Linked DNA regions of Homo sapiens: region 1 is linked to region 2. Evidence: fine-mapped expression QTL. Tissue or cell type: whole blood. Region 2 holds a variant in brackets; the other region holds the start of a gene. All regions are shown on one strand. Distances are from middle to middle.

Region 1 (8,139 bases), 20 kb before region 2:
AGAGTGTGCTGCGGATTTAGGAGCTGGTCTCGAGACATCACCAATGTCTATGTCAGAATGGTTTCAGAAAAGTGGTACAAGTGCCGGATGCGGTGGCTCACACCTGTAATGCCAGCACTTTGGGAGGCCAAGGCAGGCAAATCACTTGAGGTCAGGAGTTCGAGACCAGCCTGGCCAACGTGGTGAAACCCCGTCTCTACTAAAAATACAAAAAATTAGCTGGGCGTGGTGGTGCGCGCCTGTAATCCCCTACTCAGGAGGCTGAGGTGGGAGAATCACTGGAACCCGGGAGGCAGAAGTTGCAGTAAGCCGAGATCATGCCACTGCACTCCAGCCTGGAAGACAGAGCGAGACTACATCAAAAAAAAAAAAAAAAAAAACAGGTTGGCGCGGTGGCTTACGCTTGTAATCCTAGCACTTAGGGAGGTCCAAGACAGGTGGATCCCCTAAGATCAGGAGTTCGAGACCAGCCTGACCAACAGGGCGAAACCCTGCCTCTACTAAAAATACAAAAAAATTAGCTGGGTGTGGTGGTGCATGCCTGTAATCCCAGCTACTCAGGAGGCTGAGGCGGGAGAATGGCTTGAACCCAGGAGGTGGAGGTTGCAGTGAGCCAAGATCGCACCACTGCACTCCAGCATAGGTGACAGAGCAAGACTCCCTCTCAAACAAATAAACAAAACAGAACAAAAAAAGTGGTACAAAACAAAGGCAGTCCACAAGGCTAGAGGAGTGCAGAGAAAGACATGGCAGAGTTCCTGCTAAAAGAGAAGACAGTTATTTAAGGAGGTTTGAGATTCAAGGGCTTTTTTAATTTTAAAATTAACCATGGTAGAAACCTGTGTGTTAATATGCTGAGGGAAGTTGCCAATAGTGAGATGAAAGATCTAGGCAAGGGGATAGCAAGGTGACTGCACCAGATACCTGGATCTGGGCAGGAATAAACCTCAACAGTGATCATGTTGACCTTGAGTGACAGGGTATAATGTTTGGGAAGGTGCTTTGTAAACTATAAGGGGCAATACAAACATGTAGTACACCTTCTCTGAGATCCGGGAAAGGACAACCTGAGCATAGGTTGGGGCTGGTCATAGGCCACTCTCCCCTACTGTTTCTCTAGAGTGTGTGTAGTCCCTAGCAAGTCTCAGATGCCTCGAGTCGTGGATGGAAACAAGGTCCCAGGACCATTGTCCTGAGCCTCCTTTCTCCGTGCTCTACCTGGGGAATGCTTGACTATCAACCCACAGAAGCTCTCTCTGGAGCCTCACTGCCTAAAGAGCTTCTTGTCGTAATTGTAACCTGTCATGGTTAACCCCTTGCAAGCATGCCCTGCCCCTTGTCTCTCCCAAGCTTTGGCTGCTGCAGCTTCTTTCCACAAAATCCCAGCAGATAGCCGGGCGTCGTGGTGCGTGTCTGTAATCCCAGCTACTCGGGAGGCTGAGGCATGAGAATCGCTTGAACCCAGGAGGTGGAGGTTGCAGTGATATTGCGCCACTGCACTCCAGCAGCCTGGGCAACGGAGTGAGATACCCCCTCAAAAAAAAAAAAAAAAAAATCCCAGCAGGACACCGGCAGGACAAGGAAGGGGATGTTTCCCTGGTAAGCAGGAACTGAACTGAGAGGAAAGGTCACGGTCCTGAACTAGTCCAGGTAACTGAGCATGGTCTGCAAAGGCAGCCTCCTGGCATCAGTGCACCACCCTGAGATGACAGCCTGTTGCCTGACTGCCTCGATCTCTGTCACCTCAGCCCTCAGTGCCTGGGGCATTATACACAGTATTAGCGTCATGAGGGGGCCAAACGGACTCTACCTGACAGTTACATGTACAGGTACCTCCAACCCACCCCTCAACCTGTGTCTCTCCCAAAGCTAGGAACACTTGGGGTCTCAGAGGCCCCAACCCCAGCCCATTCTATCTCCTAAAAATCTCTAGCCAGCCCCTCCATCCAGCACCCCTGCTGGGGGCTCCTCAATGGACTTTCTTCTCCTGCACTCCCTCCCCCAGGCAGCTGCCAGGGGATTCCTTCTAAAGGGCAAAGCTGATCTTGCCCCTGCTCTGTCCAAATCCTTCCATGAGCAAGACCAAGTGCAGTAGACAGAGTTCTGGCAGCATCAGCTCCAAGTGTAAATCCCAGCTTGACTGATTAGGGGTGCAACCTCATGCAGGTTATTTCACCTCGGGTTCTCACACCTACATTGCAGGCATTTTAAGAAGTAAATGTATGATGGGTGAAATGCCTGGTATTCCTCTTGGTCCCCAGAACCAGAGCAGAGCTTGCAGCAGGGTCCCCAAGGACTCTCCTGATGCCCCTCCTCTATCTACCCTGACCTGAGCCCCTCTCTACTTCACACACAAGCTCTTGCCAGCTCTCTGTGCCCATCCTACATGCTTCTAGACCAGTTCAAAGGCTGGCCTCAGGACAGCATCCCTGATCTCCACCCCCCAGAGGGGGCATCTTGGAGCACTTGGCTGAGGACACCCCAGGGAGATTTCACTCTGAGGCCTCCCCAGGGCTGGCCTATAGGTTTCCCAGGAGCACAGAGGGCAGAGTCCTGGGGGTCTCTGGGCCCTGCACCAAGGAAATGCAGGGCAAATGCCTGTGGGAATGCTAGTTATGGGCAATGCAAAGAGGCAGTGAATCCGGGCAGGGAGAGCAGGAGGGGTTTCCAGGAAGCAGGACTGAGGGAGGAAAGGGATCTGGGGGCACTGCAGGGCTTTTGGGGTGCAGAGATATCCAGAACTTCTTGGTTGGGATGAGTGAGGGGAGATCCGTCTTCCCTCGGTGGCCTAAGCACTGGCAGCGGAATGGGCCCATCACCTAGCTACTGGCTCTGATGAAGCCAGTGTTTCAGGACTGAGGGGGCCGAGAGCGCCCCCTCCACCCCGAGCACACACACGCGCGCACACACGAGCTTCTGCTGGGGGTGGGAGGGGGGGTCGCCATTCACCAGCAGCCCACGGCCCGCAGAGCCAACTGATAGAGACCCCAGCCACAGGCCACAGGACCTGGGAGTCCCTGCGATGGGGGAAACCCCGCCCGCACCTCCCCAGGCTCCCCACCAACGCGTGTGGCCCCGGGGGGCGGGGCGCAGAGGGAAGAGGTGACATAATCCGAGCCGCACCCCCTCTGGCCGCCACCTCCCCCCAGGCCGGGCGAAGCATCCATGACATCATCCGCCTCCTCTCCGCTCCCCTCCCCCTTGGGACCCTAGCAGCGGGACGCGCCCCCTACCCAGTCCGGGTCAGGTCAGACATGCCGCGCAGTGCAGCAGGCACGGCGGCAGGTCGGAGCCGGGAGGGATGCCACGATGGGCCTGCCTCACTTACTCGCTGCCTCAGGGTCCGGCGCGGGGTCTCCGACACGGGCGCCACCGGCCCCGCTTGCTGGCGCAGCCCGAAGCACGCCCGGCGGGGCGCGCTGCGCGGGCCCGGCTCCGCTCCGCGCCCCTCCTGCTCCCCGCCCGAGCCCCGCCCACCAGCGGCTGCGGCAAACGCGAGCCCGCCCTCCGGCCACGCCCCCCAGGGCAGCCAATGCCCGGGCTGGGGCGGGGTGAGGCGCCTTAACCCCTTCGTCGCTGCGCCCCGCCCGCGCGTGGGACCCCTCAGCCTCACCCTCTCTAGGGCGCAGCAAGTCCGCCGCGAGCCCCTCTGCTCATCGCTCGTTACCCCCCAGGCCCTTGGGCTTGGGCTCAGGCCCAGTCGTTCCTCTGCAACAAATCCAATGGAACCGCGCCCTCCCTGAATCCCACGTCTAGGAAGAGGAGGAGGAGCCCCTCTTGCTTGGGGGAAGGGGCTCCCGACTCGGAGCCCCGAGCCCCATTCCTCTCCCGCGCCAGCTCTTCGGGACGCGGCCTCCCAGCGGACGCCCTGAGACCTTGCAAGTCCGCTAGGGAGGGGTCGGGACGAGCCGTCGCGGGTGGATCCGCCCGGCCGAGCAACGACCCGCCCGGGCGCGAGGACCACGGGCTGTCGTGCGGGAGGCGTCGAGGGGCAGTAAACTCCGTTCGTGACCAAACGGAGACGATTTGAAACTTGCTGCTCACACTGGATCACCGTCTGGAAGGTGCGACGGGGAAAAAATACACATTACACTCCAGCAGGATTGAACGCTTTCACCCTGTGCCCCGCGCCTGGCGTAACGCGTGGCCCCAGACCACACGCTGTAACCCGGGGTGAGAGGGAGTGAGGTGGGACTTCGTACCGGACCCGGAGCGCCGGCCTCGCCCGCGCGGGCAGCGTTCACTGTGGGGAGTGCTCACTCAGCCTAGGGCGGCCCGGGAGGACTGCCGGGAGGAGGGAGTCGGCCTTGAATTGAGGCCTCAGCCTTGAATAGGGTAGGGAGGCAAGCCTAGCCGAGAGTTTAGCACTAGCAAAAGCCTGGAGGCACCAGGGTCTGCCCTAAGAACTGCAGCGCCTCTGCTCTGGCTGGGATTTAACGCATTACGTCTCTGCTGTTTATAGGTGTTGTGTTTGGTCTTACGACTTCGTATTCTATAGTTTTTATTTATTCCTGTTTTCTGAATTTTCCCACATTTGCTTTTATCTTCTATCGTGATTTTCAAGGCAGAAAGTATTTTTAATTCTTCTCGCGGCTGCCTTTAGATTTATCAAATGAAAATAGTTTACATTTCACACATTAGTAAAGTCAGTGACAAATAATTCGTTTTTATATTCCCCCATGAGAAATTTTGTGTGCTTTTCTGCCTCCTACCTGCCGCCCTCACTACTTATATTTGTCCACTTAATCAGGACGACAGACCTAACTTTTGTTTACACTTTTTTTTTAAGCCACAACATTCTTTTTCAATCCTTGTTTTTGGCTTTTGCCAACTCTGTTTAATTGGTTTCAATGTTACTGCCGGTTTTTTGTGCTCTAATTTTTCTATTCCTCATTTGGACCCATCTCTCACATGACTGGTGATTTCAGGGAGGACTCTGGAATGTTGTATTTCCTAAGCCTTTGCCTTAGGTGAGAATGCCTTTATAATGATTTCCTGTTTATAGGATTCTTGAGTCTCAAGCTTTCCCCCTCAAAACTCTTGTCTTTATTTCATTGTCTTCTGGCACTGAAAATGCAAAGCTGGGTTTGTCTGTTTAAGGTCAGCAGTTTGCTTGGTGCTTGCAAGGGTTTTTCTTTACCCTCAAAAGTCAAACATTTTGCCAGTATAAATCAATATGGGCCTTATCTATTAATTTTCCAGAAACAAAAGAGGTCTTCTTTGTAGCTTAGAAAAGTTTTCTTCCTGTCCATTCTGTGAAAAGATTTGGGTTTTTTTCTTTCCTCTCCTCTAAAACTATCACATTGGATCACCAATGTCAAATAAATCTGTTTGTTTTCTCTGCACCCTGGGAGACTATATCAAGTTTTTCTTCACCATTACGGATTTAATTTTCTTCAGAGCCAAGAGTACTGTTTATTTTCTCCAATAAGACATTTGATTCTGCTTGTTTTATTTTTCTTTCAGCCAATTTCCATTCCACCTCTGTCTTGATCTCAACTTAATCTCTCTTTGTAGTCTCCATTCCTATTTCATAGACTAATGTGGTTTTGCATCTTTAAAAGAACACCAGGAAAATAAGAGAATACTATCTATATCTGACTCTGGTCCAATGCATATGAAAACTTTTTTGTTTTTTTGAGACAGAGTCTCACTTAAAATTTACACAAACTCTAGCATAGTGTGTAACTATTGAATGAATAACTAATGCAATCCCCTTCCTTTCTTTCAGAGCAACTATGAACTAGACTTTTTTTTTTTTTTTTTTTTTTTTTTTTTCTGAAATGGAGTCTCCCTCTGGAATGCAATGGTGCAATCTCAGCCCACTGCAACGTTCGCCTCCTGGGTTCAAGCAATTCTCCTGCCTCAGCCTCCTGAGTAGCTGGGATTACAGGCATGTGCCACCACCACGCCGGGCTAATTTTTGTATTTTTAGTAGAGACGGGGTTTCATTATGTTGGTCAGGCTGGTCTCGAACTCCTGACCTTGAGATCCGCCCGCCTCGGCCTCCCAAAGTGCTGAGATTAGACTATTTGTATCTAGGTTCATCAGTTCAGTGAACTAATCAATACTTTGTTTTGTTTTGTTTTGTTGTTGCTTAAGATGATTTGTCACCTGCTGATTAATGATCACACAAGTTGTTTTTTTTTGAGAGAGTCTTGCTCTGTCACCCAGGCTGGAGTGCAGTGGCATGATCTTGGCTCCCTGCAACCTCCGCCTCCCGGGTTTAAGTGCTTCTTTTGCCTCAGTCTCAGTAGCTGGCATTACAGGCGTGCACCATTACACCCAGCTAATTTTTTGTATTTTTAGTAGAGACAGTGTTTCGCCATGTTGGCCAGGCTGGTCTCGAATTCCTGGCCTCAAGTGATCCACCCTCCTCCACCTTCCAAAGTGCTGGGATTACAGAACTGAGCCACCGTGCCCGGCCCTGAAAACCTTGATAAAGGGGCTCATTTTCTGGGAAATAAAATTACAAGGATAACAAAGATATTAAAAACATCATCCAAGAAATATGTCCAAAAAAGGTTCTGGTGGCCGGCATCGTTGCTCACGCCTATAATCTCAACACTTTAGGAGGCCGAGGCAGGAGGATGGCTTGAGCCCAGGAGTTCAAGACCAGCCTGGACAACATAGGGAGACCCTGTCTCTACAAAAAAATTTAAAAATTGGGCTGGGCATGGTGGCTTACACCTGTAATCCCAGCACTTTGGGAGACCAAGGCAGGTGGATCACCTGAAGTCAGGAGTTTGAGACCAGCCTGGCCAACATTAGTGAAACCCCATCTTTACCAAAAAATACAAAAATTAGCCAGTTGTGGTGGTGAATGCCTGTAGTCCCAGCTACTCGGGAAGCTGAGGCAAGAGAATCACTTGAACCCAGGAGGTGGAAGTTGCAGTGAGCTGAGATTGCGCTGTTGCACTCCAGCCTGGGCGACAGAGTGAGACCCTGTCTCAAAAAAAAAAAAAAAAAAAAATTAAAAAATTAGCTAGGCACAGTGGTGCACACCTGTGATCTCAGCTACTCAGGAGGCTGAGGTTGGATGATGGCTTGGGCCTGGGAGGTTCAGGCTGCAAGTGGGCCGTGATCGTGCTACTGCACTCTAGTCTGGGCAGCAGAGCAAGACCTTGTCTCAAAAATAAATAAATGAAATTTTAAAAAGGCTCTGGCCTCAGACAGTTTAATGGAAGAAATCTCTCAAACTCACTGAATAGATAATTTTCACCCTACTAATCTGCATCAGAACCCAGAAAAGATAGAATGCTGTCTATTTCATTTTATGAAGCCACAATTCCCCTTATACCAATTCCTAATAATAGCACAGGAAGAAAGGAAAACTGAAAACCATACTCATCAGTCATCAGTTCCAGGGGTGGAAAATCCTACATACAATTCAAGAAAATAAAACTGTAGATTATTCTGTATGAAATTAATAAGCCATGAGTTTGTCAACTGAGAAAAAAAAACAATTATCATAATAGATGCCAAAAAAATCAGTCAAAAATGAATACCCAAAAAGAACCCTCCTAATTAACCAGGAACAGTTGAAATTAAGAATTATGTATTACCGGCCAGGCACGGTGGCTCATGCCTTAATCCCAGCACTTTGGGAGGCTGAGGTGGGTAGATCACCTGAAGTCAGGAGTTTGAGACCAGCCTGGCCAATATGGTGAAGCCTCATCTCTACTAAAAATACAAAAATTAGCTGGGTGGGGTGGCAAGTGCCTGTAATCCCAGCGACTCAGGAGGCTGAAGCGGGAGGATCACCTGAACTTGGGAGGTCGTGACTGCAGTGAACAGTCATCATGCCACTGCACAATGCAGCCTGGGCTACAGAGTGAGTTGCCATCTCAAAAAAAAAAAAAAAAAAAAAAAAGCCACGTGAGATGTGAGTTCCTGTTTCCCTACAGCCTCACCAGCATAGGATATCATTAGTCTTTTAAATATTTGTTTTAATCACGTCTTCTTTGCCCCATAGCTGACGGAGGGGTTCCCACTCTCATGTGATGGCAGTGGCCAAACACAACACCTGACACTGGGCAGGTGAGATTTACCGCAGTTTATTAGTTACAACATACTCAATGGGAAAGGACACCACAAGCCACGCAGGGCCACACAGGGGGTGTACTCAGGAGTGGAGAG
Region 2 (8,164 bases):
TCAGGCACCAGAGGAAGTAGGGGGCTTCTGTTTAGGGACCACTTTGCATAAATACACATTTAAACATGTGCCTCACCCTCAGCACAGCAGGATGCTCACGCCATGAACAGCCAACAGGAACCAGAGTGACCGACCCTCCAGGAGGTACACACCTCCCTCCCATCCCACCCACTTCTGAGCATATGGTTCTCACATCCACCAGTGGGTGGAATCACCCACACCATTTAAACTTTTTGTCAAGGATGTAGAGCTGAATTCATGTGATTTCCCACATGAGCAATGTCCCTCCCTCCACTGCACAATTATAGCCAGCTCAAGCAGGTCCTCTCCTTCCTTCTACCTGCCCTGCAAATGGCTCTCTCCTTCACTGACCCCCCGCCCTCCTTCTTAAAGGCTGATGCTCCCTAGGACTCTATCCTTGATGCTTCTCATTAATTCTTCTCCCCGCTGGCTCTCAGCCCTACTTAGGGCTCCTGATCAGTTAAAAAAGACCCATGAGACCTCCCCTCCCCAGTTAACAGAGATGTGGCCCAAGAGGCTCCCCACTTCTAATTTGAGTGGGGGCAAAAGAAGAGAAAGATCTTATCTAGGTCTTGGGGGCAGGGCTTGCAGGGCACAAAGAAACAGAGTAAATGTGCAACAGGCTATTTTCTTGAATGAATGGATTCATAATAAGAACAGGACTTCACCAGCTTCCAAGGGACCCTCCCCACCTCTCGGATATATTCTGAAGCCTAAATTTCACCTGCTTATCTAGGATCCTAGGCCAGGCCTTCTGCCACACCAAGCCACACCAAGCTCAGCAGTACTCACAGGCCTTTAATCTATAACTGCCTGGCCACACCATCACTTCCCCAGGATGGTGGGGAGGGATGAAGATGTATAGCCAGGTAGGCCACACCAACTCTGAGTCCAAGAGGGAAGGACTGGGGTCAGGCTGGGGCTTGGGCAGGGGACTCCCGGCCCCAGGCGATGAGGGAGTTGCTGGCTTGGGCAAGCTCGGCGATGGACACCCGGCCCCGCTGTCGGATGAAGTTGGCCACGGCGGCCAGTTCCTCTGGGGTTATGTAGATGAACTTGCCCCGGTCGTCAATCACACCTGTGGGGACATGCAGGTTGTGGGGCTGAGGCCTCCTGGGCGTTCCCCATCTGGCCTGAGAATGCCCACCTACTCCTTCACAGCTGGCTCAGGGCCCTTCCGGCCTCCTGCCTGCCTGGACTTTCCTGGCTGCATCCAGTCCTGCTAGGAGAGTCGAATCAGGCTGCCCTGCCTGTCCTCTCCCACTGCTGCCACCTCCAGGCCCTGGCATGTCCTCCTTGTAACTGCATCCAGCTACTCAGTGCCCCTCCTTGCACACCCCTCCCCCCATCTTGGGTGGTCATCCTGCCTCTGCAGCACATCCCTGCAGCCCCTGTGGCTAGACACTCTCCAAGGCCAGGACTGCAGTGATTGGCTCTCATCATCTCACCTGTTATAGTCCCCTCAGCCAGCAGGTCCTGGATGCGATTTATGGTGTCCTATGAGGAGAACAACTCTCAGAATAGAGATAGGCACCAATGTCCCCAGAAAAAGCACTGAAACCTCCCTCCCACTACAGCCAAATCTCTTTATTTCCCTCTCATGCCACGCCCAAATGTGACTCTGTGCTTTGCCTTTGGAAGGGCCCTGGGTAGAAGGGGCTCTGGTCCTGGGCCCTGCAAGACCCCCAAAAGAGTATCTCTTCCTGTTAGAAGCGGGGCAGTGATGTTTGCAACACAGGCTGGTGCAGTCTGTGCATGAGAGTTGTCAAGGTAACTGATTTGGGCTGCTTTGGTCACAGGGGCTGGCAGAGTGATGGGGTTTGGGTTTTTTTTTTCTTTCCTGCCTGTTCGTCCATTAAAAATGCAGGATTCCCAGGGTGCCAGGAGACTTCTGTGCACTACTCACTCTTGGTTGGGGACAAGGTAGACGGTGCATCAAGACTCTATCTTTAGGGCAGGTCCTCTCTGCTAGCCACAGACCCCTGGCCACACTGCACACAGCAGGCCACGTTCCAGGGCTTACCTGAGTGCGTAGGCCCACCTGGGAAGCCAGGTCTTCCAAGAGCACAACCTTGGACTGCTACAAAAAGAAGGAGGAAAAGAAAGAGAGGCTGAGCTTGGGCAAATCCCTCTAAGCATGGGCACCCTCCAGGTTTGCATTCTGATCTGATCTGTTCTCGGTGGCTGGAAAAACACTGTACACACTCCTGTAGGACAGCCTTGCTCCCCTGACACACACACACACACACACACACACACTCACTATCACCCATTGACAGAGACCCGCACAATCATAAACCCTCTCATTCCCCTTCTTGCGAGGAAGGAATCTACCCAAAACAACCACCTGCCTCATGGGCCCTGTCCTGGACTCCGAGACACACGAGTGGTAATCAGAGCACAGCAGCCACCATCCTCTGCATCCAGCCATCTCTTTTTAACATCATGGACAAGTTCAAGGGGACGCACCATAGGGAGGAAGGAGGCGGTGAGAGTCACCAAAAGCTATTTTAAATAACTGTCACCAGGACTTATGCTTGCTGAGGACCTACTAGAACAAGGCCCTGAGAAGGTAGGAGGGACACATGCTGAACAAGCCATAGTCCCCGCCCTGGAGCTCGCAGTCCGGCTGGTGAGACAGGTGAGTACATGGACAAGAGGGAGAGCAGATAAAAGCCCGAGCAAGCCAAGGTCTCTCAGTAGAGGCTGTGGGGGCCCACTCCTGCCTTGCCTTCGCTGGCCGCCCCACTGGCCTGGTCCCCCACAACCTGACACACCCACACTTTTTATCCATCCTCTTTATACCATCTGAGGCACTGAGCCCACCCTTGAAATCACTGTCACTAATACCGCTGAGTGCTTTCCAGCACAGCCACGTTCTGTGCTCCAAGTGCTTCTTCATACCCTCAGTAGAAACCTGAGTTCCCAAGGGCGCAGCGAAGGGTCCACCGCTGTGTCCACACAGGCACCTGCCCCCACTACCCCAACACACAGCACAGGACTTGAGAAAAGGCAGTTCTTTTGCATTTCTGTGAATCCTCCACCGCAAATGAGCTGGGGGAGGACTGACATGGTGACACCTCCCTGACTGCAGATAGCATGTGACTTGTTTGAAATGCCAAAGCCGTATGTACAAGCAAGAAGGCAAGCGAGAGGCAGCTGGGTCAGGATGGGCAAGGACAAAGTGACGTGGTCAGCTGGTCTCTACCTACAAAACAGGGATCAGGCAGCGGGCTCTCAGTGACAGTGTGGTGCGAGAACATGAAGTCACCCCAGGTGCTCCCTGATGACCTGGCCTGAGGTGCTGCTGGGGCCAAAACACGTTTGATAAAACAAGCTAGGTGTGGTGGCACCCACCTGCAATCTCAGCTACTCAGGAGGCAGAGGCAGGAAGATCGCCTGAGCCCAGCCATGGTCAGACAGGAGAATGGAACAAGATCGAGTGAACCCTACACCTCTCATAAACGATGCTGGGTGCAGGCATGTTCCTCCAGTTCTGAAATCTTAAGGCAAAAAAGGTCTATCCCCTTGGAGCAAGGAGGAAAGCAGACAGACTGAATTTCAGAAGTCCTCCTTTTCCTTGCAAGACAGCAGCTCTAGAAGAATTAGCCAGCACAGGCTGGAAAAACTTTTTTTCTTTTTTTTTTGAGACAGAGTCTCACTCTGTCGCCCAGGCTGGAGTGCAGTGGCACCATCTTGCCTCACTGCAACCTCCACCTCCTGGGTTCAAGTGATTCTCCTGCCTCAGCCTCCTGAGTAGCTGGGACTACAGGTGTGCACCACCATGCCTGGCTAATTTTTGTATTTTTAGCAGAGATGGGGTTTCAGCATGTTGCCCAGGCTAGTCTCAAACTCCTGACCTCAAGTGATCTGCCCGCCTCGGCCTCTCAAAGTGCTGGGATTGCAGGCGTGAGCCACCATGCCCGGACAAGCTGGAAAAACTTCTAAGCTCCAAAAGAGTTTGGAGAACTCCCAGAGAATAGTTACCTCCAGGGAGCCACCAAAAGTGAGGGCTAGAACTGGGGACCTTTCTTCTGGTTTCTGCAGAGTAAAGGGGGATGTTGAAGCTGACCCCCTCCTCTAATTCCACCTGGGAAGGCTTCCTGGGGAGGGGCTTCAGGACCATCTTACTGCCTACTGGGTAGGTGGGGACAAGTTCCAAACAGCAGCAGGCAAGTGTGAGAAATAACCTGCCCGGCCACAGCCCCTAATCAAGTGTGCCAGGGTAGAGAGAGGGCTCCATGAGAGGGGAGTGCACACAGCCTGAACAGACAGGACCCTCTCAAAGCTGCCAGCATTTCCCCCACTTAAGAACCCCAGACTCAAGGCTGTGAGCCCAGCCCCTCGCTGCTGGCAGGCGTCTAAACCCTGCTCTCTTTCAGGAGAGGTGGCGGGAGGATTATGCAAGCCCTGGGTCCTTGGCAGCCCCTGGTAGCACCCCCACCACCGCCCCCGCTCCCTCTGCACTCCTTCCCTCAGCCGCCTCTGCACCTCTGAGTTGCACTT[G/C]AAAACCTCTCCCCTCATGGCATCCTTCGTGGGAGAGAAGTTGCTTAGCAGCAAAGCAAAGTAGGATGTGCTTATGCAACCTGGAGCAGCATCGAGGCGGCCTGCGCAGTGGCTGCGGACAGAAGGGGACACACTGCCGCCCCACCCTAAACTCCAAAGGAAACACCATCCTGTTCCCCCTGAAAGACCCAAGTTCCCAGTCAGGAGCACATGGCAGAGGATGCTTGTTTCAACTCAGTGGAGCCTCAGTGTGACAGAACTGACAGAAAACACATGTGAAGAGACTTGAAAACACACTGACTCACTGAGCGTGGGGTCTGAAGAGCAGGGAAACTGTCAAACTGAGTGTGAGGAAGTGATCAAAGGCTTGCGCCTCCCACACAGACCCAGGTCCTTCTCCACCTTCGGGGTTGGAGGGAGAGAAACTCTCCTGGCCAGGACCCTGCGGCTCTGCCCCTCTGGGCCCCCCTGTCCACTCCTGCATGAGCCTGAATGCCCTGCCTGCAGCCCCCGCTGGAGGCATCCAACCTGCACATGCCAGGCAGGGAGCTGACACTCAGGCTCTGTTCAGTGGCTTCTTACCTTGATGTAGTTGATGAACTCTGTCAGGAAGCTCTGGGACTAGAGAAGCAGAGAAATCAGGGTGAGCACCCCCTAGCAAGCCCACAGGGTTCTGTACCCATTCACCCAAGTACCACCTGCTCACTTGAGGGCCACCTGCCTGCAGCCTGCCTTTGGCCCGCCCAACCACCTGCACATACCGCTTGCCTACACAAGCAGCAGAGCCTTCCAGGGTGAGAGTTTCGGAGGCACCAGCCTCTGCTGAGGACAAGGCCTCTGGCCACTAAAGCCTGCTGGTACTGATGCCCACCCACCTCTCACTGCCTGGCCAGGGGCGTCTGGGATGGGGTGGCTAGCCTTGCGTCTGGCACAGGCTGCACTGATGGGTGCAGAGAGGGGCTTCCCAGGGGCAGCAGGCCCACCTGTTCCTCAGTCATGGTCTCTCCTACGCCTTCCTCCTCCACCACAAAGGCCTCCTTCAGTTTCAGGTACTCCTCATGCTCCCGCTGGGCCTGCTCCTCGCGGGCCTTCCTCTCCTCCTCCTCCTGTGGACATAGGAGGCAAAAGTCAGGTATCGGGGGCAGAACAGGGCAGGCACCTGTTCTGGTTGCTGCTACCCCTGCAGGACACCAGAGCATATAGCCCAGCCTTTTCTCAGAGACAGAGCTCCTTCAGGACCCCCATTTCTCCATTCCCCCAAGCTGAACCATGGGCCGAGGCCCCTCTTGTCATCGGTTTCATCATCACCTGGACAAATGCTGCTCAGCCCCTTCTCCCGCCCTCCGTGCTCAGGGGATCTTAGCAAAAATCTGTTGAAAACCCTGCCATGACCCCACTCTACAATACCCTCCAATCACCTGCCCCATCCTCTCCTTGTGTAACTCACCAAGCATACCCCGTCATGTCCACACCTCATAAGCAAATGTGAACCCTGCATTTCCTCACCACCCACTCACCCAGTCAGCCCACTCCAGTCTGGCTTCTGTGTTCCCAGTTCTATGAAACAACTCCTGCCACAGTCTCACCCATGCCCTCCACTCACCAAACTCAAGGTACAACCTTCAGGTCTCATATGTCTGTCCTCTCAGTGATCCTTCTTTCCTCCCTTGGCTTCCAGATCCCACCCTCTCCTGGATTTCCTCCTGCTCCTTGGGCCATTCTTCCCGCCTCCTTCATCATTCAGCCCTGCCTCTTCTCTCTCCTCCACATTCTCTGGGCCACCTCGCCCATGCCCAAAGCATCAACCCCTTCCTTGCCAGTGACTACCACACTTGTAGCCCCACCCGAATCTCTTCTCCCAAACACACAACGGTCCATGTGACACAGCTACTGGGCCATCTCACAGGCAGCAGACAGACCCTGGGACCTACTCTTCTACGTTTAGACCTCCTCCTAGGTCCCTGGCTCTGTGAATTAACACAGCCAACTGGTCAGAAATGAGGTCCTATTGACCCCTTCTTTCTCTAACTTCCAGAAAACTCCCTGGTCTGTCTATGTTGCTCCATCACCACTACTGCCTGGTAAAACAGCCTCCCTCAACCCAACACATTTTCCAGAGCACTCAGAAAAATTTTTAAATGGAAAGCTAGCCGGGCGTGGTGGCTCACGCCTGTAATCCCAGCACTTTGGGAGGCCAAGGCGGGCGGATCACGAGGTCAGGAGATCGAGACCATCCTGGCTAACACGGTGAAACCCTGTCTCCACTAAAAATACAAAAAAAAAATTAGCCGGGCGTGGTGGTGGGCGCCTGTAGTCCCAGCTACTCGGGAGGCTGAGGCAGGAGAATGGCGTGAACCTGGGAGGCAGAGCTTGCAGTGAGCCGAGACTGTGCCACTGCACTCCAGCCTGGGGGACAGAGCGAGACTCCATCTCAAAAACAAAAACAAGAATCAGAAAGCTAAAGCTGAGGCAAGTAATATACAAGATGAGTCTGGGGCATCTTGCAGTGCCAGAAACTAAGTGCTCAAAAAACAAAACGAGTGTGTGTTAAAGGTACACAGGAGCCAACTGAAAGGGCTCCCAATGGTCAAAGCTGGAACAATCTCAACAACGTAATAAATAACGTTACTGGATTATAACACAAAGTACAAAATAAATACTCATGAGTCTATACAAATATAAAAAAAATGGCTGGTCGGGCACGGTGGCTCACGCTGGTAATCCCACCACTTTGGGAGGCTGAGGCAGGCGGATCACCTGAGGTCAGGAGTTCAAGACCATCCTGGCCAACATGGTGAAACCTCGTCTCTACTAAAAATACAAAAATTAGCTGGGTGTGGTGGCGGGTGCCTGTAATCCCAGCTACTCGAGAGGCTGAGGCAGCAGAATCGCTTGAACCTGGGAAGCGGAGGTTGCAGTGAGCCCAGATTGCGCCACTGGACTCCAGCCTGGATGACAGAGTGAGACTCCATCTCAGAAAAAAAAAAAAAAAAAAAAAAGACTGCATGAATATTTAATGAATAGGGAAGGAGAGACATATCTCCTGTAAGAGATTTCCATATAATTTATGTAAGAACTCTAACTCCCCAACCCTTAAGTGTGGGCTGTGCACAGTGACTTCTTTCCAAAGAAATACGGGAAGAGGGGAAAAAAACAGTCACATTACAGTGGAGAAAGCTGGCAAACAAAACCGCAGCCAGGCGACCAAGGTTAACAACATTAGGGACAAGTGAAGCGGATAACTTGCATATTTGGTATGTTGCATTGAAGATGGAACTTCACTTATTGTCTTCTTCAGTCAGATCCATAACCCCAGTCTAACCATGAGAAAAACATCAACCAAACTCAAATTAAGGGACCTTCTACAAACTACTTGCCCAGGACTCCTCAAAATTGTTAAGGCTGGACACAGTGGCTCACACATGTAATCCCAGCACTTTGGGAGGCTGAGGTGGGTGGATCACCTGAAGTCAAGAGTTCAAGACCAGCCTGGCCAATACGGTGAAACCCCGCCTCTACCAAAAATACAAAAATTAGCCAGGTGTGGTGGTGCACGTCTGTCATCCTAGCTGCTTGGGAGGCTGAAGCAGGAGAATCATTTGAAATCTGAAGGTGGAGGTTGCAGTGAGCTATCGCG

Evidence for each region. PIP is the estimated chance that this variant, and not a neighbour inherited with it, causes the effect.
Region 1: it holds the start of LZTS3, and the variant in region 2 is fine-mapped to the expression of LZTS3 in whole blood (TOPMed, PIP above 0.99).

The regions. Positions count from the first base shown.
Region 1 is chr20:3,170,127-3,178,265 of GRCh38, forward strand. It overlaps LZTS3 (leucine zipper tumor suppressor family member 3), which reads right to left and starts at 3,423. Exons shown (of 5, transcript NM_001365618.1): 1 at 3,329-3,423. LOC107985414 (a long non-coding RNA gene) reads left to right here and starts at 3,564. Exons shown (of 2, transcript XR_001754477.2): 1 at 3,564-4,064; 2 at 7,976-8,139. RefSeq lists a silencer at 3,307-3,646.
Region 2 is chr20:3,189,721-3,197,884 of GRCh38, forward strand. DDRGK1 (DDRGK domain containing 1) reads right to left here. Exons shown (of 9, transcript NM_023935.3): 5 at 5,511-5,633; 6 at 5,110-5,148; 7 at 2,045-2,101; 8 at 1,470-1,518; 9 at 630-1,099. The coding sequence ends at 933. Among named protein-coding and RNA genes, the nearest start is that of DDRGK1, 11 kb to the right of the region's middle. The variant G/C (reference allele first, on the strand shown) is at 4,528.